Homo sapiens: one gene and its partners. The protein of the gene in region 1 interacts with the protein of each later gene in a pairwise test. Each region holds a gene or a part of one and is shown on either strand. Other genes may lie near its edges.

Region 1 (4,866 bases):
TTACTGCAAACAATGGAGATTTAAGTAGCTATCTTAATTTTGCCAACATGGGAACAACTGATAGGAAAAGAAAAAGAAGCTAGTGGTCTTGCTGAGGTGCACTCCATTCATGGCCAAGGGTGATTTCTGGTTATATCAAGTACCCCATTCCTCTCTCACATCTCCTACCTAGAAAGACTACCTTATTAGACACAACGAACCATTACTCAGTTGGCATTATAGAAAATAGCAACAGTCCTTGCCAGAATCTCAACTCTAAAATCTTTTTTTAAGCCCTGTGTGTGTGTGTGCATGTATATATACATATATATATATACACATACATATATACACATATACATATATATGTGTGTATATACACACACACACATATATACATATACACACATTTCCCCATGCTGAATCAGAGATTTACATAAAACATCCTGCTATGCTCAGGGGAAAGATACTTGTAGTGAGTTAAATTATTAGTTTTACAAAAAAGGCAAGGTAGATTAGACACCAAACACCACAGTTGGTTAGAAATATTTATTATCCCCTCCCCCCACATACAGATTACTTCTCAGAAACATGAAGATATTATCCATGTCCTCATCAATTACAGTTTGTAGAAAATAAACTTAACTCATATCCCATCAACAATGTATTTCTATCATTTTTTTAAACAATAGCCATTTCATTTTTCCATGTTAGTTCCAGAATAGCTTCAAGTTTTATCTTTTGGATCGAATCCAGTCAATCTTTGTTTATAGGTAACAGTTTCCTAACAGATCCCCTCCCCCAACCCCTAAAAAAATTCTATATCCTAAGTGATAAACTCTTCTTGTACATTCAGCAAACTTTATATTGGAAAAGAAAAAGAATAATTGAGATAGGTATTTACTTTCGTGCACAGTAATAAATCTAGCTGAGCTGCTACACCTTGCTTTGCAAAGATGTTTACATAAAATAAATCATCTCTTATCAAGTTACAATGGTAATTTCTTGAAATGTAGATATGAAAGCTATACACTTAATCCACTGAAATTTCCTTCTAATTTTTTAATCTGTAATTAAACCATCACCATAAGGACAAGCTTCATCCCAAGATGTTCCCCCTTTTCCCCTCAGCTATTTCTATCAACTTGAATCCTCTCTCAGATCATGTAAAGAGATACATTAAAAGCACAGGAAAAAAAATGTTTTAGCTTGCTGACATAATGCCCTTAAGTTTGCTGACATAATGCCCACATTTTAACTTTAAAATGTAAAATCAAAGTTAAAGCATCACTTAATTCATACAGTACATTATTAATCAACAGTGTCCCACCAACTCAGAAGTTTCCTAAATTGGCTGCTTTCTCTGCATTTAGTAAGTTTATAACCAATGACTCAATCAAAGAATGTGCTTGTAATAGGCTGCTGGTTTAATTTTAGAATCAAAAGTTTTATATTGGGCTACTTTCAAATATAGAAATGCTATGAGTGACATATGAACTATTAATTTTGTTTCCCATTACCTACAGGAAGAATTTATTCAAATAAAATTTTACAAGACAAAATGCAAATCTATATACCTATATAGAGATGTATATATGTATATATTGAACCTAACTAAAGTTTTATAAGCAATACTAACATAGTTCTGGTTACACATTCCTAAAGACTTAATTGTTTTAAAGATACATGTTATAAAGAGGCTTATGCAAAAGGCAAAAATTAAGAATCAACATGATCTTTTGAGGTTTTCATTACTTCAAAAAGCTGTTTCTATCACCCATAGAAGAAAACTATGCATTTGTTTATCTTAGGAAAAAAAATTATAAAAAGATAATGCTATCATGTAAAGATTCACAAAAACTATACTGTATATCCCATAAGAGTTATACCTACTTAAGGTAAATCACAATTATGGTTTATATTGTACTACAGACATCACCATCGCCTTTCCTCTTTAATAATGAGAGGGTTTAACTTTTTTTTAACTTACTTAACTAGTGCCACAGTAAATCAAGTCCCAGTAGCAACAAGTTAAACAAGATTACAAAATAAGGCATTCTGCTCACACGTCATGAAAGTAACAGGCTTAGTACAGTAAAGCGGGCTGTTATCATTTTTGCAATTTTATATAATCCAAACATTATACAGAAGGCAATCTTTACCAAAAAATCCAATTAATTGCTATTTTCCAGGTAAACAGGAAAACATACATAAAATCCTCAACTTTGGCTATTTCTCCTACTACCATAAACAGATGCTGATCTTATCTACTTAATCAAGTCCACTATTAGAAATGTGGATAAAATGTCTTTGACTATACCATTTCTAAGCCTGTAGGTCACACACTAGATGATTTTTCAAATTATAAATTAAATCTAATATGACAAAATCCCTGTAGTGTTATTTAGGAAAAAAGAAGTGGACTCAGAACATACACACGCACGCACACACACACATGCCATCATATTAAACAGTTGCTTTAAACATTAATTAGTTCTTCAGAAAGAATAAAAATTCTTTAACATCAAGCTGCAGCATGTGTATAAGGGGCAGCAATGCAACCTTTCTCAGCACAAGGTAAGAATATGAATCAACTTTTAAACAACTAGTACCCTGAACCAAAGATTTTGCCAAAGATGAACTCTAAAATACATGTTTTTTTTTTTTGTCGTTGAAATTTGGATTCAATTGCCTGTTGCACTTTTACATTAAGTGTTGCTTAAATAAACAAAAATAGAGCATAAATTCAATATTCTACTGTCTAAACATTTTAAAGCAATGGTTATGCCATCATAAACAAGTAAAATGCACCTAATTTGGGTCTTTTGACACCTCTTGTTTTAAGTTTCCTGTATGATAAAGTTCTTCACAGTTTAAAATATTGTGAAGAAATATATTTAACTATATTCACATACATATTATGTACATGTACTATGTCTTTGTTGTACCCATAAACTTTGAATACGTGTGTATCAGTAGGATACCCCACACATATGGCAGGAACCCTGAATAATATGGTTGGTGTGGACTGAAATGATTTCCCAGAAAGGCTTAGAAATAAGAAAAGAATATTATTATGAATAATTGTAATAACAGAAATTTTACCTTATTTACATAGTGCCTATCTCCCAAGAGGTAAATATGCTTTACAGACATTTTTTAGTAACTCTGTGAGGTGGGGCATTGGGGACACCATCAATTCTCATTTTCCGCAAGCAAGTAAACTACCCAGGACCACACACTTTAGCAGTGGTAGAGTAAATACAGACATGGAGATCTCCTAAATCCCGAAGTCTCCAATTACCAGATCAAATAGTCTTGTGGTAGTAATAAGATTTCCATCATTCAACAGAACTCCTACCACAAAGGATTAATTTCTAAGTCCTCATACACTTGTGATTGTGCGTTATATTGATAACCACAGGGAGATCAAAATGGTTTTTGGTTTTGGCAGATGAAAAAGTCTAACATTCAGTGTGATTATACTTCAGTGTAACTTCTCCAGTTTAAGTGCGACACAGCTGATTGGTCTATCAGGGAGATGCAGTCAACGTCTAATCATGGCTGAAGAGTTCTCAATCCGAACAGCTATTGCATGATTACAGAGATAGCCTACAATCTTTTATTGTCTTAAAGGTCTTTTCTATCTCCACATATGGTATACACATATAAATATGCATTTTAGCACAAAATGTACAGTTACCATCAGTTCATGTTTAAATAAACAAAGGCCTTAAGGGTGAACTTTAAAGGCCAAGAGCTCCTCAGAGTGCATGTTGTTTAAAGATCGAAGATCTGGCAACTTTAGAAGCAGTTTTGTAAAAATAGAGGCCTCATTTGGATGGTTTTTCATTATTAAGGTCCTTAGTGCACGAATGAGAGTTTCCTGCAAAGCCTCCACAGAGTTGACGTTTTCTATTCCAGATCGATCTAAGAGAGATCAGGAATAGGGAAATAGGAAAAACAGGATAAATTATTAACATTAAATATAAATAAAATTCTTGCTTATCAGTGTCACTAACGAATAGAAAGCAAGGTTTTATACATCTGAATAAAGGCAAAAGTTGACAAATTTCTCAAAATCTCAGTAACAAATCGTTAGCTAGTTACTATATTATAAAGCATATATATCACATAAAACATTTGATCAATCAAAATTCTTTACTGTTAAGAATTTTTATTCACAAGAACATAGAGGTTCTGACTTTTTAAAATTAGATGTCATCTGATTTCAACTGCTTCTAATTAGCAAAATAAAATAATGTAGTATATAAACATATTTTCAATACATATGGAATACACTCCCATTTGTATGTCACCATGTGTGGTAGGCAGCCCCTAAAATGGCCTCCAATGATCCCTTCATCCTGGTATTCGCACCCTTGCGCAACCTCCTCCTACTAAGTGGACCTAGACTTACTAACTTCTAATGAAAAAAAATATGGCAGAATTGATAGGATGTCCGTTCTGAGATTAGCTTACAAGAAACTGTGGCCTCCATCTTAGGTACGCTCTTGCTCACTTACTCTGAGAAAAGCTGCTGCCATGCTGTGAGCCACCCTGTGGAGAGGCCCACATGGCAAGGAACTAAGAGTGGGCTCTAGCCAACAGTCAGCAAGCAACTGAGGTGCTCAGTCCAACAGCTTGCAAGGAACTCAATCTTGCCGATAACTACATACAACTGAAAGCAGATCCTTCCCTACTCAAGCCTTCATATGAGACCACAGCCCTGTCCACAGCTTAACTATAACCTCCTAAGAAACCCTGAGTCAGAGGCACATATCATATCCTATCTCTCATATCATATCTTAACCCTCAAAAACTGTGAGATTAAATAAATGTTTGCATTTGTAAGCCCCTGAATTTTGGGACAATTTGTTATGCAGT
Region 2 (7,236 bases), on another chromosome or scaffold:
GTACTGTTTTCTGTTTACTTATCCCCCAGCTTTAGGCCTGGAACAATGTTGAACATAGTGTCACAGGCCCTGGTGCCAGACAGGATCAGGGGCTGCGGAATATTTACAGTTTCCCTTCTTCTGCTTCCATAAATGAAATGGACAGTCTGAATGGAGAAAATCAAGGGCCAGCTGGCTAAAAACACAACTGGCAGCAAAACAGTTGGGCCCCTTCCAAGAGCTGGTGTTTAAAGAGAGGCCATTTAAAGAGCAAAGTCCACCTACCACAATAGTGGGCCAGGACACTAGCTGTAGGATGAAACAATGCAATTTCACTCAAAATGATTTTTGTTTCCAAAGTTTGGAAACTAGATGTGCCCCCTTCTTCCCAAGAAATTTTCTAGTCTTAGGGTCAATCCCTTAAAATAGCCAATCTTTCCACCCATAACAAATAACAAATGTATAACTTTGAGAATGTTAAACAAATTATGTGCCACGCTGGCCAAAGTCTTATTTTTGCTTAAGTTCACGCAAACACACAAAAATAAAATTAAGAAACCGAGATGGGAAAAGACAGGAACAAAAAATGACTTAAGAATTTAGATGGGATAGCATGGAAGACAGTCAGACACTTAAACTAATTTGAGAGGTTATTAATATATCATGAGGCCAACTGACAAACACAATTTTCTTTCTTTCTTTCTTTCAATAAAATGTTACTCCAACTTTGCTGTTTAAGAAAAAATGCAATAATCTTCTTGGGGGAAAACTCACATTGAAGCACTTGGTAACTAGTACACAAATGCTAATGTTTTTTTTTTTTTCCTTGTAGGCTCTGATGATGACAACCTTAGGCTGGCCATTTACTTAACCCTAAAATCTCTGACAAGTGCCAAATCAGAAATACGCATAACACCATATTCAGGGAGATAGATTTATACTCCAAACAATTCTGTATATTGTGAGATCATCCTTTTTTTACAGCCCAGGAGCAGATGAATTTGAAGGTGATTTCGCGAAGCTGCCTCTTTTTGTATATACATACATGCATAAATGATTGGAAAGAGAAATGAAAGAGGGCCCCAGATAAAAAGGAAAGGCGTTCAGCTAGATAGGTGCATCCAGCAGCAGTTCTCTGATGCTATAATCCCGAAAACAGATAAAGCCACTAGCTTGAGAGCCCCTGGAAGGCATTACCTCTATATAGGGCACGATCTTGCAGGAGAAGTCCTCCAGCAGCCACTTCTTGGTCAGCTCGTGGAAGATGACCAGCGGAAGGCAGAAGAAGATGATGAGAAAGTCCCAGAAGGCCAGGTTGGCCAAGAGGGAGTTGGAGATGCTCCGCATGTAGTAGTTGTGGCACACGATGCACATCACCGCCAGGTTGCCAATGATGCCGGTCCCGAAGATCACCACGGACAGACACATGACCGCGTAGGCTCCATAGGACTCCTGGGTCAGCGGGTAGAAGGGGTTCTTCAGTCTCACACGCCGGTTCGTGCTGTTTCCCCGGCGGGGACCCCCAGGCTCATGGATTCCTTCACCCAAGGATCCATTCTGGGCCAGCGCCCGGCCCGGGAGTGCAATTGTCCACCCTTCGTGCCCCGCCAGTCCATTGGCCGTCTTGGACAGGGGCTTGTGGTGGGAACCCTGGAGTTTCCCGGCTCTCCTTGGCCAGTAAAAAAGATCGCTGGCTCCGGGGACTGTCTTCACACTCTGCTCCTGGCTACGCCCGGAAATGCCAGCGCCTCTGGGACCCTTCTCTTCCTCCTCTGAGATCTGAAGGAAGAGCTGGAGGGCCGTGGGGTTCCCTCTCCCCAAAGTTTCAGAAGGCTCCTGACCCCGAGCACCTTTCCACCTCCAGGGGCCAGGTGGCCTGGTTGGAGGTCCCGGGGGTCCGGCTGCCGACGCCTCCGCCCCTCTGCCTGCAGCCGGGTCACGGCCCGGGGCCGCCGGCAGGTCCCAGGAGGGTCCCGCAAGAAACGCTGCCCCCTGCTCCTCCCTGGGTGCTCGGGCTCGCAGAACGTCTCTTGCAGAATTTCCCGGTCCCCAGGCGTCCCTGCCGCGGCGCTGGATCACTGTAGGTGCACAGCTCTCCCCCAGACAAGTTTCGTTTCTGGACGCAGGGGCGACCCCGAGGGCAGAAGAGGCAGACACCTTGAGCAGTAGCAGAAGCAGTAGCCGCGACATGCGGGCGAGAAGCGCGCCCGGGGCTCGCATGGCTTGGTGAGGGCACACCCGGCAGCCGCAGCTCCTGCTTAGTTAGGATCGACACCTGCTGCCGAAGTTGCTGCTGAGAGTTAGGCACATGTCACATACTCACCCCCGCCCGGGTAGCGGGGAACCGGAGATTAGGGTGATAGCGGAAGATCGGTCTTGGGGGTCACACACACGCCCCCTATAATCCTTCCTCCTTTGGCATCTTGTGCATTTCTCAGCCAAGTTGAGTCCCAGCAAGGTATGCCCTCCAAGGTTCCTAGAGGGAATAGGCTACTCCCGGTGGCTGACCTTGAAAAGTTGCAATCAACACCTGACTGTTGATTACTGTTGAGACTCGGGGGAGCCCAGACGAAGCCCCACACTCCTCACTGCCTTTGGGTGGGGGTGGTGGCCTTCTTGGTAACAGTTGCTCTGCCTATTTACATCCTTTCGACAGCGTTTGATCCAGTTGCAAGCCGAGGTCTCTAGAGGAAAAGAAAAACAAGTCCCCCTCCCCCAGACGACTCGCAGTCACAACCCCGCTCCCAGCTCGCTGGAAACACGTTGCAAACAGTCCGAAGCAGCGCTGATGCGCCGGCGAAACTCTTGCCCCACCTAACCCCAGCGACTTGCGAGCCTACTGCTGCCGAGGAGAAGCGGGATTCCAACCCCGCGGCCACTGCCAAAGTTGCTTCTCCTCCAGCTCAAAGTTGACGACGGGGCGAAGCAGGCTGCTGGACGGCGTGCCGCCGCAGAGAAGGAAATCGTGGGGAGAAGGGGGAGAAGAGGGCGCCGCTCGTCGGTGGACAGTGCCGCTAGCCGCGGGAGCTAGTCACTGCCACAGCGGGCTCAGCCCGGACGGGAAGGGTGGTGCCTGGAACCGCCGCGGGCCAGGCAGTGCGCGGCCGGGAAGGGGAGGTGGCCCGGCCTCGCCCCCGCGCTCCAGCCGCTGCGCGCGCCCGCGAAGCTCGACTCTCGGCTCGTTGCCTCCTCCCACTCCTTCGCCTCCTCCTCGGAGAGATACTGGTTTGTGGGGAGACGGGATCCCCTGGTGGTTCACCACTCACTAAACCCACACACGTTTCATTCAAGCCATTTGTAGCGGCTTCCACTCGGAGGAGCTGGGAGGGAACAAGGGCGGAGGCGCGGAGCCTGCGCGGCTCGAGGCTAGGGATGGGCGGGACAGGTTAATTCCCCAGCTGTCGAAACCAGCCTGACAGGTCCCCGAGCCCGGGCTAGGGGCGGGTGCGGGGCGGGAGTGGGGGGTGGGGGTGGGAACGGGAATATGAGAGCGGTCGGGGGAGGGAAGAGAGGAGGGTAGCAGGGGAGTGAGCAGCAGGGTCCCCTCCAATCTGTTGCGGCTGATGCGCATGCCCAGGTCTCAGCTCTGGGGGGCGAGGGGCGGGGCGGGGGAGGGGCGGACGGGGGTTGGGCCGCGGGGAGTAAGAAGGTGAAACCTCACCTCCTCAGGTATTCCCTAGAGATAGGAGAGAATGGGAGCTCAGAGGTGTCAGTCATAGAGAATTACCAGTTCCAGGATTGAGATGCAGAGCGAGAAAGCTCAGGATGCACCATTACCTTTAACACTGAGTTGGGAAGCATCCTACCATGGGTTACTTCGTACCACCCAGAGCATAGTGAGGTAGTTGTATTTGATGAAGTAGTGGGAAATGACTGGAGGCAGAAAATTACTCGAACAGCACTCCCAGCACGGCTGTCCATGCCTTTCCAACCTTTCTACTATATCCCACAACCCTGTCAAAACTGTCAGGGCATAGCTAATAAAATAGACAAATTAATGAAGAGAAAATGATAGAGGAAGAAATAAACACATTCTGAATTTTTTTTTTAAACAGAGTCTTGCTGTGTCGCCCAGGCTGGAGTGCAGTGGTGCGATCTCGACTCACTGCAACCTCCGCCTCCCCGGGTTCAAGCGATTCTCCTGCCTCAGCCTCCCAAGTAGCTGAGACTACAGGCACCCGCCACCATGCCCGGCTAATTTTTTTTGTATTTTTAGCAGAGACGGGGTTTCACTATGTTGGCCAGGCTGGTCTTGAGCTCCTGACCTCGTGATCCGCCCGCCTCGGCCTCCCAAAGCGCTGGCATTACAGGCGTGAGCCATCACACCCGGCCTGAATTTTTTTAAAGCAACACATCTAGAGAGGCAGGAGAAAACACAATGGAACATATGATACCAATTGTGGTAAATAGAATAATGCCCCCCCAAAAAAATGTCCGAATCCTAATTCCTAATACCTGTGAGTATGTTACCTTACAGAGCAAAAGGGATTTTGCCAATGCAATTCAGCTAAGACTCTTGAGATGGGGAGAGTATCGTGATTATCCAGGTGGGTACACTATAATCACAAGAGCCCTTACAAATGAGAGGCAGGAGGGTCAGAGTAAAAACAAACACAAGCCAAGTGATGTGGGCAATCTCTGGAAGCTAGAATGGGCATAAAAAAGGATCTACTAGCCCATTTGAGACTTCTGACCTCCATAACTGTAAGATAATGAATGTGTGTTGTTTTAAGCCACAAAATTTATGGTTATTTGTTGCAGTAGCAATAGTAAACTAATACACCATTAAATCTAAAAATGGAGACAACAGGAATAATTGTATAGAAAAACATAAACTACCAAAAATAGTTCAAGAAGAAAATTTTCAGAAACTGTAATCGAACTATAACATTAAAGAAATCAAATCATTCATCAAGATCTACCCAGAGGAAAGTGCTAGACCTTAGCATATCCTGCGGAATAAATATACATTTATACAAAATGTTTTAAAGCTACTCAGTTCATTTTGTGAAGGCAGAATAACCTTAATGTCAAAATCAGACAAAGCCAGAAATAGGAAAAAATATAAGCTAATAGCACACATTCATTTGTACATTAATTCATTCATTTATATACACTAACTCATTCTCTCAAATTCACTACTTCATTAAAGAAATATTCTGCTCAAGTTACTTAGGTCAGAGCAGTGAATAAAATAAAGTTCTGCTCTCACTGAATTTATATTTTCTTGTATACTCATAAAAAGGACAAACTAGGCTTATGTGTATCACCAAGACTGAATCTCAGAAACATAAATGTAAGGGAAAAACGTAGAACTTGATGTGTTAACTATATAATGCTACCATTTGTGTAGCTCTTAAAATGCACATAAAACAATTTGATAATCATACATGGTGTATCATATAAAATATGTGAATGGAATAAATACAGATCAACTTCAGAATATTAGTCACCTCAGGAAATAGAAGAATGGTCATGGGATGGAAGGAAGCTTCTACTCTAACTGTAGTATCTTGTTTCTTTAAAAAAAATTTAGAAGAGGGAAATCTGGATTAATAATGAAACAGGAAAAATAAGTTGCCAAAATGAAACAGTGATATAGCTTCCCTTCTCATCTCATTAGCTTAGAGTTTAAGTTACACATGTAAGATATGTTTCTATCCTTTTTACTCTAGACCACATAAATGTGTCACTAATCTCTATCACTACACAGAAAGGAATCAAAGCTAAACAGGGAAAAATCCCTTTACCTGCTCCCTTAGAAGCTCCATTGTAATTCACACATGCTTGGCCCAGAGTTGGGCATCATTCTTAAAGTGGTGGGCTATAGAACTCAGGTACCATGCTTGGAGAGTGGCTGGGGAAAGGCCTGAAGGAGGAGCTACCTGTGTTTGTCTGTGGTGGTATCTCATTCATGAGTGGTCCCTTCCTTAACCTGAACAATGATGCCTACCTACTTGGATGGTTGCCAAGTTCTGGTTCTCTAACTTATTCGGACCATGAATAAAACCAAAGAGCTCCAGCTACTCTATTGGAGCCCAGGTCAATATCAATTATTTATAAAATTGTGTTTCCAAAAATATCAATTATTTATATTTTTGGAAACACAATTTTCTCATCTGTATAATAAGGATACTAATACCTACTCTCAGCTCTGCTCACCCAAGTTGTTATGTGGATTAGGTAGATATGAAAAGACTACATAAAGTATAAAATATTTATTACTGTTGCTCTTGGTAGTTCAACTTTGTTTTTAGTGAAATTTAAATGCTGTCAAAAACACATAATCCTTGAAAAAGAATATGCTTGGTAAATAAAAGTGTAAAGTAATAGGTTTATAAGAAAATTTAGAATGCATTCCCTGCAAAAAGAAAAACACACATCTTCAAATATTTTTCCAAAGCTTAGCTCAGCTGTAACTATAAATTTTAAATGGAAATAGTCACATCTCATTCATTTGTGTAGATTCTACTTTAGAAATATAGATCAGAAAAGGAATTAGCTAATCATTGTCTGGTTTACATCTGAGGCCATTTATCTGTACAAAGAAAACTGATTTGAACATGGATTTTTTTTCCTGTGTCAGCATTTCACAAGGTTTATAATACATACTATTGATTTTTTTAATAAAAAAAGAACATGTAAATTATTACCTGCCTTGGCATTTTTATAAAATCTATTACACTTCATTTGGTGTTTGGTGTGCTGAAATAACACACATCACAGAATGAGAGAAATTACTATTTCAAGTTTTAAGATACATCGTTGAACAGAAGCTTTACCCAGCACACAATTCACTTATCAAATAATTTTCTTTCTTTTTTGCCTCAGATAATTCAAAAGGGTCATTTTTTCTGAAAGAAACTGTAACATACCACCAATAGATTATTATTTTCTGAAATTCAAAATTTGTCTGTTTTCCAAATAGTTTGTGGTTGCAGCCTTTCTGTCACTGAATTATTAATTGTTAGTTTGGAAGCCTCCATTGATCACCTTCATTAATCACCTCTCTCTTTTGCCATATATAAGAGCCAAATTATCATTAACGGGTGGGAAATGGCACTGCTTGGAATATAATATCAATATGGTTATGTCTACCTTAAAAATCAAATATCAAAATTAAAGTACTTAAAATTTAAAATAAAACAACAATAATCAAAATAGTCTTTTATTTATTCCAGACAAAAATGTAGACATTGGGCTACATAAAATATGTTTGAACCATACTTGGACCAGCACACTAATTGCATAGCCAAG
Region 3 (7,034 bases), on another chromosome or scaffold:
ATAAAATGAGATAGACAAGAGATGCAAATGGTGCAAGGGCTGAACCTTGAATACTCTTAATGTTTATAAATTGTGGAGCTGTGAAAGAACCAGCATATGAGACTGCGAAGGAGCCACTAGTAATGTAAGAAGAAAACCCAGAAGAGTATGGTGTCTTAGAAGCCAAGTAAAGAAAGTATTTTGGTCAGGCATGTAATCCCAGCACTTTGGGAGGCTGAGGCAGGCAGATCACTTGAGGCCCGGAGTTTGAGACCAGCCTGGCCAATATGGCAAAACCCCGTCTCTAGTAAAAAACACAAAAAAATTAGATAGGCGTATGGCACATGCCTGTAATCCCAGCTACTCGAGGAGGCTGAGGCAGGAGAATCGATTGAACCCAGGAGGCAGAGGTTGCAGTGAGGCGAGATCGTGCCACTGCACTCCAGCCTGGGCAACAGAGCCAGACTCTGTCTCAAAAAAAAAAAGAAAAAGAAAAAAAAGAAAGAAGGAAAATATTTCAAGGAAGAGTGTTTTACTTACGTCAGATGCTACCGATAGGTCAAGAGGAGAACTGAAAAATAAAAATTGGATTTAGCAATTTTAGGTCATTTGGAATTTTATCTGGAGTGGTTTTGGTAGTGTCAGAGGCAAAAGTCTTTTTGGAATCACTCATAGTACCAAATTCAGTGCTTTTTATATAGTAGTAGCTCAATTATTGTTTGTTGAATATAGTGATATCTTGGAGTCAATAATTTTATATTTAAACAGCTTTATTAATTTACTTATTGACTATGGGATAATGCCCAAATTCCTTAGCCTGGCAAGATCTACCTTTTGGCTTATGTATTTCATTTTCTGCTGTTTACAATATGTGATTTCAACTCCAGGGGGAAAACCCTCTTAGTTTTCTTTAGAAGCTATCTTGTATTTTCTTCGGTCAACACTTTTTAGACTTTTGGATTTAACAGAAAAGCAAAATTTTAAATAGTATTCTACCTAATAAGCACATTAACAAAACCACTTTTTGATATTGCCATCCTTTCATTTAAAAAGGATGTTTTATATTTAAAAAAAAAAAGTTTGGCAGAGCTCAATGTCTCATGCCTGCAATCCCAGCTACTCAGGAGGCTGAGGCAGGAGAATCACTTGAGCCCAGGAGTTGGAAGCTGCAATGAGCTATGAATGGGCTACTGCACTCCAGCCTGGGTACACAGAGAGACCCTATCTCTTAAAAAACAAACAAACAAACAACAACAACAAAAAATTTGAAGGACATTGTCTCAGAATAACATGTTTTTGATTTGGGTAAATTTACAAGCTTTATGAAAATTTGCATCTCTTAGAAAAATTATCCTATACAAAAACTTATACACTAACATTCACAGAAGCATTATTCATAATAGCCAAAAGGTGGGAACAACCCAAATGGCCATCAGTTGATGAATGGGTAAACAAAATATGGTATATCCATATAATGGAATATTATTTGGCCATAAAAAGGAATGAAGTACTGATATACGCTACATGTATGAATGAACCTTAAAAACAAACTAAACGAAAGAAGCCAGTCACAAAATTCCATGTGTTATATGATTCTGTTTATATGGAATGTCCACAGTGGGCAAATGTATAGAGAGAGGAAGCAGACTAGTGGCTCCTTAGGACTGGGGAAGCTAGGGAGTTGGGAGGTGATAGCTAAGGGGCACAAGGTTTCTTTTTGAGATGATGAAACTGTTCTAGAAGGTGATGGATGATTGTACAACTCTGTGCTTGTCTGGGATGATTAGCAGTATTCTGAACTCTTGCACCACTTTTTGCTGTTGCTCCTCACATCACTCTTAGCATTTGCTGCCCTCATTTGTGAATGTTAGTATTGTTTTATTAATAGTTTGTTTGAGCTGCTATAACAAAATACCTTTAGACTAGGTAGTTTATAAACAACAGGAATTTATTTCTCACAGTTTTGGAAGATGTCCAGAATCAAGGCACCAGCAGATTCAGTGTCTCTGCTGAATAGACGATGCTTTCTCTGTCTCCTCACATGGCAGAAGGGGTAAACAAGTTCCTGCAGCCCTTTTTATAAGAGCACTCCCTTAGTCTGTTTGTGTTATTATAAAGGGATACCTGAGGGTGGGTAATTTATAAAGAAAAGAGGTTTACTTGGTTCATAGTTTTGCAGGCTTTACTAGAAGCATGGCTTCAGCCTCTGGTTCTGGTGAGGACCTCAGAAAGCTTTTAATCATGATGGAAGGGGAAGTGGAGCTGACATATCACATGGCGAGAGAGAGAGGGGAGGGATACCAGTCTCTTTTTAATAATTAATTGTTCTGTTAATTAATAGAGTGAGAAGTCACTCATTACGTGATAGCACCAAGCCATTCATGAGGGATCTTATCTCATGTTCCAAACACCTCTCACCTCCAACATTGGGGATAACATTTTAACATGAGATTTGAAAAGGACAAATATCTAAACTATATCACTCCACTTCTAGCCCCCCAAATATCTTGTCTTATTTATTTATTATTTTTATTTTTATTTTTGAGACGGGGTATCACTCTGTTGCCCAGGCTGGAGTGCAGAGGCGTGATCATGGCTCACTGTAGCCTCAACCACCTGGGCTCAAGCAGTTGTCCCACCTCAGCCTCCCAAGTAGCTGGGACCACAGGCATGCATTACCATGGCCAGGTAATTTTTTTTATTACTTGTAGAGGTGAGATCTCACTAAGCTGTCTCATACTCCCGGGCTAAAGCAATTCTCCTGCCTCAGCCTCTGAAAGTGCTGGGATTATAGGTGTAAGCCACCATGCCCACCCTCTTTTTTCTATTGTAAGATATAATCATCTCTTTCAAAGTCCCCAGAAATCTTAACTAGTTTCAACATCAACTCAAAGTCTAAAATCTTATCCGAGACTCAAGGCAGATTCCTTATAGCTATGAACCTGTAAGATCAAAAACAAGTTATCTACTTTTAAGATACAATGGTGGAACAGACATTGGGTAAATATTTTCATTTTAAAAGGGACAAATTGACCAACAAAAAGGGACCCACCCAAGTCTGAAACCTACAAGGGCAGACATTAAATCTTAAAGCTGTAAAATAATCTCGCTTGACTCTTGTCCCATAACTGAGCACACTGGTCCAAGAGGTGGGCTCTTGAAGCCTTGGGCAGCCCCATCTCTATGGCTTGGTTGGGCACAGACCACATGGCTTCTTTCATGGATTGGAGTCTAATGTCTGTCACTTCTCCAGGCTGAGGGTGTGTGCTGTTTTCATCCAAAGGATTCTTTTAATCTTTCCACTTCCTCACTTTCCACTCCCTCCCACATCCTGAGCACACTGGTCCAAGAGGTGAGCTCTCAAAACCTTGGGCAGCTGCATCTCTATGGCTTGGTTGGGCATAGCCCACATGGCTGCTCTCATGGATTGGAGTCTAATGTCTGTCACTTTTCCAGGCTGAGGGTGTATGCTGTTTACATCCAAAGGATACTTTTAATCTTTCCACTCCCTGACTTTTCTTTTCCTTTTCTTTTTTTCTTTTCTCTTTTCTTTTCCTTTCTTTCTTTTTCTTTCTTTCTTTGTTTCTTTCTTTTTCTTTTTCTTAACAGTATTTAACACATTTGACCACACCTTTCTCTTCTTCTCTTGGCTTTAGTTAGACTGCCACCACTGTGGGTCCTGGAGGGCAGTGCCCCTGTTCCCGCTGCTCTACAGTGAGTTCTCTGTGGGGACTGTAACCCCATATTTCCCCTTGGCACCAGCCTAGTAGAATCTCTCTGTAGGAGCTCTGCTGTGGCAGGCTTCTGCCTGGACAGCCAGACTTCTTGACATATCTTGTGAAATCTAGGTGGAAGCTGCCAAACCTCCATGGATCTTGTATTCTGTATACCTGCAGACTTAACACCACTTGGAAACCATCAAGGCCTATGGTTTGCACCCACTGGAGTGGCAGTCCAGACAGTACCTGGGGCCTTTTGAGCCCTGGCTGCAGCCAGAGCAGCCAGAACGTGGGGAGTAGCATCTCAAGACCGCACAAGGCAGCAACACCCTGGGCCTGGCCTCCCAAACCATTTTGCCCGAGGAGGCCTCTGAGCCTGTGATGGAAGGGGTAGCCTTGATTTCTGGAATGTCTTGGGGGCTTTTCCCCATTGTCTTGACTGTTAACAACTGGCTCTCTTTTATTCATGTTAATTGCTTTAACAACCTGTTCTGTCAGGGCCTGGTACCTGGGGCTAGGTAGTTTGGATTTCTCTCCTGAAAACTTCCCTCTACCACATGGTTAGGTTGTAAATTTTTCAAATTTGTATGCTCTGTTTTTCTCTTAATTATTAGCTTTAACTTTGTCTTTTTTTTGAACTCCCATATCTGATAGTAGGCTGTTAGAAGCAGCCATGTCACCTTTTGAACGCTTTGTTGTTTAGAAACTTTTTTTTGCCAGGTAGCTTAAGTCATTACTCTTAAGTTCAGCCTTTTACAAAGTCCTAGGCATGGATACAATGTAGCCAAGTTTTTTGTTAACAAGCATAACATATAATGTGGCCATTTTTTTGTTTTAGTTTTTAAAAATTTTATTTGAGATCTCATGAACGTGGCCTTTACTGTCTATATTTTAATCAGCATTTTTATCACAACCTCTTAACCAGTCTCTAAAAAGTTTTAAAGTTTTTCTTGTGTATGAGGTTTTTTGTTTTTGTTTTGTTTTGTTTTGAGTTCTCTAAGCTCTTGTAAGCAGCTTTAGTTTTTGCTTTTTTTTTAATACTTTAAGTTCTGGGATACATGTACAGAACCTGCAGGTTTGTTACGTAGGTATACATGTGCCATGGTGGTTTTGCTGCACCCATCAACCTGTCATCTAGGTTTTAAGCCCCACATGCATTAGGTATTTGTCCTAATGGTCTCCATCCCCTTGCCCCTCAACCCCTGGCAGGCCCCGGTATGTGCTGTTCCCCTCCCCGTGTCCATGTGTTCTCATTGTTCAACTCCTACTTATGGAGAACATGCGATGTTTGGTTTTCTGTTCCTATGTTAGTTTGCTGAGAATGATGCTTTCCAGCTTCATCCATGTCCCTGCAAAGGACATGAACTCATTCTTTTTTATGGCTGCTTCATATTCCACAGTGTATATGTGCCAGATTTTCTTTATCCAGTCTATCATTGATGGGCATTTGGGTTGGTTCCAAGTCTTTGCTATTGTGAACAGTGCCACAATAAACATACATGTGCCTGTGTCATTATAGTAGAATGATTTATAATCCTTTGGGTATATACCCAGTAATGGGATTGCTGGGTCAAATGATATTTCTGTTTGTAGATCCTTGAGGAATCACCACACTGTCTTCCATAATGGTTGACCTAATTTACACTCCCACCAACAGTGTAAAAGCGTTCCTATTTCTTCACATCCTCTCCAGCATCTGTTGTTTCCTGACTTTTAATAATCGCTGTTCTAACTGGCATGAAATGGTATCTCATTGTGGTTTTGATTTGCATTTCTCTAATGACCAGTGATGATGAGCTTTTTTTTCATGTTTTTTGGCCACATAAATGTCTTTTGAGAAGTGTCTGTTCATATCCTTCACCCACTTTTTGATGGGTTTTTTTTTTTTTGTAAATTTGTTTAAGTTCCTTGTAGATTTTAGATATTAGACCTTTGTCAGATGGATAGATTGCAAAAATTTTCTCCCATTCTATAGGTTGTCTGTTCACTCTGATGATGGTTTCTTTCACTGTGCAGAAACTCTTTAGTTTAATTAGATCCCATTTGTCAAGTTTGGCTTTTGTTGCCATTGCTTTTGGTGTTTTAGTCATGAAGTCTTTGCCCATGCCTATGTCCTGAATGGTATTGCCTAGGTTTTCTTCTAGGGTTTTTATGGTTTTAGGTTTTACATGTAAGTCTTTAATTCGTCTTGAGTGAATTTTTGTATACAGTGTAAGGAAGGGGTCCAGTTTCAGTTTTCTGCATATGGCTAGCCAGTTTTCCCAGCACCATTTATTAAATAGGGAATCCTTTCCCCATTTCTTGTTTTTGTCAAGATCAGATGGTTGTAGGTGTGTGGTGTTATTTCTGAGGCCTCTGTTCTGTTCCACTGGTCTATGTATCTGTTTTGGTACCAGTACCATGCTATTTTGGTTACTGTAGCCTTGTAGTATAGTTTGAAGTCAGGTAGCATGATGCTTCCAGCTTTGTTCTTTTTGCTTAGGATTGTCTTGGCTATACAGGCTCTTTTTTTGGTTCCATATGAAATTTAAAGTAGTTGTTTCTAGTTCTGTGAAGAAAGTCAATGGTAACTTGATGGGAATAGCATTGAATCTATTAATTACTTTGGGCAGTATGGCCATTTTCATGATGCTGATTCTTCCTATCCATGAGCATGGAATGTTTTTCCATTTGTTTGTGTCCTCTCTTATTTCTTTGAGCAGTGGTTTGTAGTTCTCCTTGAAGAGGTCCTTCACATCCCTTGTAAGTTGGATTCCTAGGTATTTTATTTTCTTTGTAGCAGTTGTGAATGGGAGTTCATTCGTGACTTGACTCTCTATTATTGGTGTATAGGAATGCTTGTGATTTTTGCTGATTGATTTTGTATCCCGAGACTTTGCTGAAGTTGCTTATCAGCTTAAGGAGTTTTGGGGCTGAGGCAATGGAATTTTCTAAATATACAATCATGTCATCTGCAAACAAAGACAATTTGACTTTCTTTCTATTTGAATACCCTTTATTTCTTTCTCTTGCCTGATTGCCCTGGCCAGAATTTCCAATACTATGTTGAATAGGAGTGGTGAGAGAGGGCATCCTTGTTTTGTGCCAGTTTTCAATGGGAATGCTTCCAGCTTTTGCCCATTCAGTATGATATTGGCTATGGGTTTGTCATAAATAGCTCTTATTATTCTGAGTAACGTTCCATCAATACCTAGTTTATTGAGAGTTTTTAGCATGAAGCGGTGTTGAATTTTGTCCAAGGCCTTTTCTGCATCTATTGAGATAATTGTGTGGTTTTTGTCATTGGTTCTGTTTATATGATGGATTACATTTATTGATTTGCATATGGTGAACCAG
Region 4 (7,034 bases), on another chromosome or scaffold:
AAGCTGCATGACCTTAAGCAACCCATGTTAAACCTCTGAGCCTGTATCTTCCAGCCTGCACCAACAGGGCGGAGGAGGAAGCAGGGCCAGGGAAGGCGCCCGGCACACACAGCTTGGCTTACGAAGGGGAAGACCCGACTGTGCAAGGACACGGAATAAGCACGAGCTTGGGGGCAGACGGGGTGGGGACTTTCTCACTAGAAAAGAGCCTGGGGGCCTCCATCAGGGTAGGGGGTGAGAGGGCTCCAGAGAGCTGGGCCCCAGCCAGTGGCCCCGGGTGCACACTGCTCCAGGCCTGGCTCCCTCACCAATGCCCAGGTGCGTGTTGATGGAAGCGTAGCGGGCCGTGCCGGTCAGGTTCTTGTTTTCCCGGTAGGGAATGTGCTGGTGGGTGCGGGCGTCCCGGTACTTCTTGGCCAGGCCGAAGTCGATGATGTAGACCAGGTTGCCCTTCTTCCCCAGCCCCATGAGGAAGTTGTCGGGCTTGACGTCCCGGTGGATGAAGTTCTTGGAGTGGATATACTCGATGCGGCTGATCTGGGGAGGAGGGGGGCCATTTGTTCAACAGAGGGGCCCTTGCCTAGCACTCTGGGCCAGGCAGGGGCTGGGGCCACAGAGGTGGAAAGGCAGAGGGAGAAAGGCCTGCCTTCGACCATGAAGGATAACTAAGGGGCAGGCCAGAGAAGGCCTCCTGGAAAATGTGACATCAGGATGAACTCTAAAGGGGGAGTTCACCAAGTTGGCTGTGAGACAGAGAAAGAGAGTATTGCAGGAAAGCTAATGGGAAGATCCAGAAATGAAGAGTCTGCTAGAAAGGCAACTGGTTCCCCATGGAAGGCTTGCCTGCCCGGCCCCACACTCACAGGACTTAGGGAGCCAGAGAGGCAACAGATGTGGGCGAGGGGCAGGCAGGGAACATGGGGGAAGCCTAGACCAGGAAGAGGTGACAGAGGCAGAACACAAAAGACAGGGCTTCCGAAGGATGCCAAACTCAGACAGGCACATGGCCCTCTTTCCTTTGATATTTTTTTTTTTGAGATGGAGTCTCGGTCTGTTGCCCAGGCTGGAGTGCAGTGGCAAAATCTCGGCTCACTGCAACTTCTGCCTTCAGGGTTCAAGTGATTTTCCTGCCTCAGCCTCCCGAATAGCTGGGACTATAGGCACGCGCCACCACACCTGGCTAATTTTTTGTATTTTTAGCAGAGATGGCGTTTCACCATGATGGTCAGACTGGTCTCAAACTCCCGATCTCAGGAGATCCGCCTGCCTCGGCCTCCCAAAGTGCTGGGATTACAGACTTGAGCCACCTTTTCAGTCGAGTTTTTAAAACTCAAACTAATATCCATCCACATGCCGTGGCCTCTGGCTCTGGCCCCAGGTTCAGCACAGCTCAACATCTCCTGCACCTTTCTTGAGTTTCACACCATGAGGGGCTCTGGCGACCCTCTGCTCACACACCTTCAGCCTACATCGCAGGGCTTTTGCAGACCAAGATTAAAACCCCTGTACGAGATCTCCACATTCCATTCCAAGTTCAAAATTCTACAGTTTTGTATTTTTAAGAAGCTTTCCTCCCTATGCTGATGAAGGGCTTAGTACTTAACAACAGCCTGTTAGAGGGGCCTGTTTTGGCAAGGCGCTGAATGGTATCTCACCTAATCCCCTCAACAACCAACAAAGGAGAGACTCTCACATGAGGCCACTGAGGCTCAGAGAGGTTCGGCGTTCACCTACGGTCACTGGTCTGGAACAGGACCAGGTCTGTGTGACCGACCGCAGGCTTTACATTACCCAGGGCAGGCCAGACGTGGTGGATCATGCCTGTGATCCCGTGTTAATTCCCATCTTGGGAGGCCAAGATGGGAAGACTGCTCAAGGCCAGGAGTTTGAGACCAGCCTGGTCAACACAGTGAGACCCCCATCTCTATTTCTTACAATTAAATGATATTTTTGAAATAAATAAATAAAACTACCCCAGGCAGAGTCCCAGGCCCTGACTCGGCAGGTCTGGAGTTGGGCCTGAAATCACATTTTAAATAAACAACTTGGCTGGGCACGGTGGCTCACGCCTGTAATCCCAGCACTTTGAGAGGCTAAGATGGGCGGATCACTTGGTAAAACTCTGTCTCTACTAAAAATACAAAAATTAGCCCAGCGTGGTGGCAGGTGCCTGTAATCCCAGCTACTCATGAGGCTGAGGCAGGAGAATCGCGTGAACCTGGGAGGCGGATGTTGCAACGAGCTGAGATCGCACCACTGCGCTCCAGCCTGGGCGACAGAGTGAGACTCCGCCTCAAAAAATAAATAAACACCTACAATTCTATAGCCAGTGGACAAGGTCCCCTGGCCCAGGCCCATCCTCTGGCATCCTCTGGGGGCAGGAGGCAGGGCTGGTATCCTGGGCCCACAGGCATCTGGCTGGGGATGGAGGGGACGGGGACTCACCATCTGGTCGGCCAAGAGCAGCACCGTCTTGAGGCTGAATTTGCGGGAACAGAAGTTGAACAGGTCCTCGAGGCTAGGCCCCAGCAGCTCCATGACCATCACGTTGTAGTCGCCCTCAGCTCCGCACCACTTGATGGACGGGATCCCCACTGGGGGTCAAGCAGAGGGCCTCTGTCAGGGGTCAGAGGCAGGCAGCCAGCCACGCCCGGCCCACCCTGTGCTCATGGCTGCCCACCGCCACCCACCCGGCGCCCGCCGCCGCCCACCCTGCGCTCACCGCCACCCTGCATCATCTTGTAGAACTTGCTCTCGATGTGCAGCTGGGGGTGCTTTGTCTTCACACACTCCAGCTTGATGGCGACTTCCTCACCAGAGGCGATGTTGGCACCTGCCCGGGGCAGGGAGGCAAGGGACCAGGGTCACCCTCAAAGGCCAGGCAGTCCCAGGCGCCCCACTAAGCATTTCTGAGATCTGGCGTGTGCCGGGCCCGGGGCCATCTGCCCTTGAGGAGCTCTTGGGGGAGGCTGGGAAGGGGGCAAAGGAGCCCCGGCAAAGGGTTCCTGAGGGGAAAGAAGGTCAGCGCTGTGAGGGACAGAGGTGACACACAAGGGCTACCCAGGGCCACAGGTTGGGGCGACAAGAAGGCCCGATGTGAGTGGGGCAAGGGTCAGGTATGCAAAAGGCTCACAGACCACCTAAGGGAGGGGGCTGAGTCCTAGAGCAAATTCAGGCAGTGAGGTCTGTCGGGTTGAGATGGTGGCACGTGCAGAAGAGGCCCAATGGGGCTGGGCTGCCGAACACACCAGAACAAGCCAGGACCACCCTGGCCTACAGGATGAGGATGGGACAGCCGCAGCAACCCCTCAGTCAATGCTGATGCCTTCAGAGGCAGCCCTGCACATTCTAATCCAGTGTCTCATTCGATTCTCAACCCCCTTGTAGAGATGAGAAAACAGAGACCCAGCTAGAGACCCAGCTCAAGGTCACCTGACCTGTAAATGGCGGCCTTGAGATCAACCCCGGCTCTGCTGGCCTCCAGCATAGGTCAGAGGTCCTGCCTGCACCTCCCCGTCTCCCCCAGTCCACTCCTGGCTTCTCAAGGGGCTCTAAGAAAATACCCTCACACACACCAAGGCCCCGCTCTCTGCCTGGGCCCACTGCCCAACTCAAGAAGTCACAAGAAAGACCAAGCCCAAAGTGTACCTTGCCTCAGTTTCCCTGGCTGTATGGGTGGATGAGATGAAGGGCTGGGGCTAGGCTGGGCGACAGGGTGTCTCCTTCCTGGGGCCAGCAGCGAGCCCAGCAGGAGGAGTAGGACAGTGTCGCAACAGGACACAAACAGGCCAGAACAACCCCCAGGGACACAGCCTCAGGAGGAGTTCAAGACAGGAGAAAGGCAGGACCTCACATCAGAGGAAAAGATGAGACTGTTCATTAATAATGTCCCTGAACAACCGGCTGGCCACCTGAGAAAAGACACCATGGCTCACACCACAACCAGGAGAAATCTCAAGTAGAGGAAAAGTTTGTATATAAGAAATAAAGGTGTGGGTGTGAGTTGGCACAGCCCCTGTGCACCTCTTGGGTGAAGCTGAACATAAACAAACGCTCGCCCAAGCAACCCCACTCCTGAGTGTACATCCTTCAGAAACACGTGTGCACCAGGGGGACAGGACAAGGATGGACACAGGAGCAAACAGCCCAAGTGCTCAGCAGCAGAAGAACAGGAACAGTGGCGCAGTCACCAGGGAATCCCAGGCGGCAGTGAAGAGGAAAGGATGCCTGCTTCACACAATGACCCTGGTCCCAGGGGTGCACTCCTCACAGCAGCCAGAGGGTGGAAACAACAAACATCTGTCACAGATGCAAGGATGAATGGAATGCAGTGCCTCCATGCGGCGGAATATTATTCAGCAATAAAGAGGAATAAAGTACCGATACACGCTACGACACGAGTGCACCTTGAAAACATTCTACCCGAGGCCAGGCACAGTGGCTCACGCCCGTAATCCCAATACTTTGGGAGGCTGAGGCGGGTGGATCACAAGGTCAGGAGTCCGAGACCAGCCCAGCCAAGGTGGTGAAACCCTGTCTGTACCAAAAATACAAAAATTAGCCGGGCGCAGTGGCAGGCATCTGTAATCCCAGCTACTTGGGAGGCTGAGGCAGGAGAATCACTTGAACCCAGGAGGCGGAGGTTGCAGTGAGCCGAGATTGTGCCATTGCACGCTAGCCTGGGTGACGGAGTGAAACTCCAGCTCAAAAAAAAAAAAAAAAAAAAAAAAAAGAAGAGTGCAAGCACAGTTCTACTTGTTTCCATATCAAAACAGGCAACAAGACTGGACAATACAGATTTAAACACGAAAGAAAGGAAAAAGATTAAATGTCAGACGGTGGTTCCCAGGGAGGGACACCTTAGGCCATGCAGGTATTCTATACGTATTCTTTGCATCCACTCAACGTTTAATAAGAAATAACAATGAAATGTTAGAAGAAGGGAGAATTGCCTTATAGCCTTGGGGTTAGGCAAAGCTTTTATTTTTATCCCTGATTCAAAATCCTAAAGCCATTTAAAAAAAAAAAAAAAAAGCTCCTTCCTCTCCAAAAAAAAAAGAATCCCTTCTGCATGGCAAAAACACCGGAAATAAAGTCCTAAGAGACATACTCACTTGCAATTCTTATCACAGGCAAAGAGCTAATATGTAATGAGCTCCTACAAATCAGTCAGAAAAAGACTCAGCAGAAAATAGGCCAAAGGATTTGAAACACACACTTCACAGAGAAAGAAATCATTAATAGAAAAGCCTTACTCATAGGGAAAGATGCCCAACCTCCTTGTAAGAGAAATGCAAATTAATATGATCGTGAAAGACCATGTTTCACCTAGGATTGTCAAAAGTCTTACGAGATAACACACCTGTCTGTCGGCAAGACTGTGGGGGCGCTGAGCACTCCTCCCAGGTGGTGGAGGCGTCAACTGCTGAGTCGCCACTGGAGGGGGATTTGACGCTACTCAGCCCTGACCAGCAACCCCGCTTCTGGGAGTTTACCTGACATCCTAGCACGGTGCAAAACAAGGCGGGGACAAGGCTGTCGGCTGCAGGCTGTTTGGAACAGCAGAAGCTTGGAAACAACCCAAATGTCCCTCCTGAGGGGGCTGATTAAATAAAGAATAGCCCATCCATAAAACAGAATACAATGGAAAAAGAACCAGGAAGCTCTCTCTGCACACAAGTGGAAAGATCTCCAAGATACAGGAAGTGAAAAAGCAAAGCACAGAACAGTGTATATTCCACACTCTCATTTCAGTTTTCTTTAAAAAGGTGGGGAACTAAGTATCTGTGTTTGGCTCTAGCTACATAAAGAAACACTGAACAGAAACATGACTGTACAGGGCTAAGTGGGTCAGGGAGGAAGGGGTGGGGGACGCTTCACTGGATACTGTGTTATAAGTTGCAATTTCTTTCAACACCTTTATTGAGATGTAATTCAGATAACTCTCCAATTGAGTCACTCAAAGTGTGCGACTCACCGTTTTTAGTATATTCACAAGCTTGCGCAGCCATTACCACAATCAATTTTAGAACACAGGCCGGGCGCGGTGGCTCACGCCTGTAATCCCAGCACTTTGAGAGGCCGAGGCAGGCGGATCACAAGGTCAAGAGATCAAGACCATCCTGGCCAACATGGTGAAACCCCATCTCCATTAAAAGTACAAAAATTAGCTGGGCGTAGTGGCGCACGCCTGTAATCCCAGCTACTCGGCAGGCTGAGGCAGGAGAATTGCTTGAACCCAGGAGGCAGAGGTTGCAGTGAGCCGAGATTGTGCCACTGCACTCCAGCCTGGCGACAGAGCAAGACTCCATCTCAAAAAAAAAAAAAAAAAAATTAAAAATTAGAACACAGCATCTTCTTATCAGCTGATACCTTCGTATCAGCATCTGCTGTGGGTTCCGCATCTGCCGATTCAACCATGGATCAAAAATACGTGGGGGGAGAAAATAAAAAATAACAACACAACAATAAGAAATAGGTTGGGTGCAGTGATGCACAACTGTAGTACTACCACTTTGGGAGGCTGAGGAGGATTACTTGAGTCCAGCGGTTCGAGACCAGCCTAAGCAACATAGTGAGACCCTATCTCTACAAAAAATACAAATATTAGCCAGGCGTGGTAGCACGTGCCTGTGGTCCCAGCTACCTGGGAGGCTGAGGCAGGAGGACTGCTTGAACCTAGTAAGTCAAGGTTGCGGTGAGCTATGATCACACCACCACACTCCAGCCTGGGTGACAGAGCAAGACCATGTCTCAAAAATAAATAGGTAAATAATATAAAAATTAAAAATACAGTACAATAACTATTTACATAGCATTTACATTGTATTAGGTATTATAAGTGATCTAGAGATGATTTAAAGTATATGGAGAAGGCCAGGTGCCAGCATTTTGGGAGGCTGAGGCAGGCGGATCACCAGGCAAGGAGTTCCAGACCAGCCTGACCACCATGATGAAACCCCATCTCTACTAAAAATACAAAAATTAGCCAAGGTGCTCCCGTGGGAGCGCCTGTAATCCCAGCTCTCAGGAGG

What was found.
Region 2: the proteins of NR1D2 (region 1) and GPR37 interact in binary tests that used the Homo sapiens proteins (3 or more experiments, as listed by UniProt).
Region 3: the proteins of NR1D2 (region 1) and CRY1 interact in a two-hybrid assay, tested with the Homo sapiens proteins (one study listed by BioGRID).
Region 4: the proteins of NR1D2 (region 1) and CSNK1E interact in a two-hybrid assay, tested with the Homo sapiens proteins (one study listed by BioGRID).

What each region holds. Positions count from the first base shown.
Region 1 is NC_000003.12:23,976,266-23,981,131, reverse strand, and holds the end of NR1D2 (nuclear receptor subfamily 1 group D member 2), read right to left. Parts: intron 3,910-4,866; coding exon 3,713-3,909; 3' UTR 515-3,712; downstream 1-514. UniProt on the Homo sapiens protein: Transcriptional repressor which coordinates circadian rhythm and metabolic pathways in a heme-dependent manner.
Region 2 is NC_000007.14:124,762,778-124,770,013, forward strand, and holds the start of GPR37 (prosaposin receptor GPR37 precursor), read right to left. Parts: upstream 3,016-7,236; 5' UTR 2,200-3,015; coding exon 1,177-2,199; intron 1-1,176.
Region 3 is NC_000012.12:107,083,527-107,090,560, reverse strand, and holds part of CRY1 (cryptochrome-1), read left to right. Parts: intron 1-7,034.
Region 4 is NC_000022.11:38,300,416-38,307,449, forward strand, and holds part of CSNK1E (casein kinase I), read right to left. Parts: intron 2,834-7,034; coding exon 2,723-2,833; intron 2,595-2,722; coding exon 2,446-2,594; intron 538-2,445; coding exon 309-537; intron 1-308. Other genes in the region: TPTEP2-CSNK1E (casein kinase I), read right to left, coding at 309-537, 2,446-2,594, 2,723-2,833.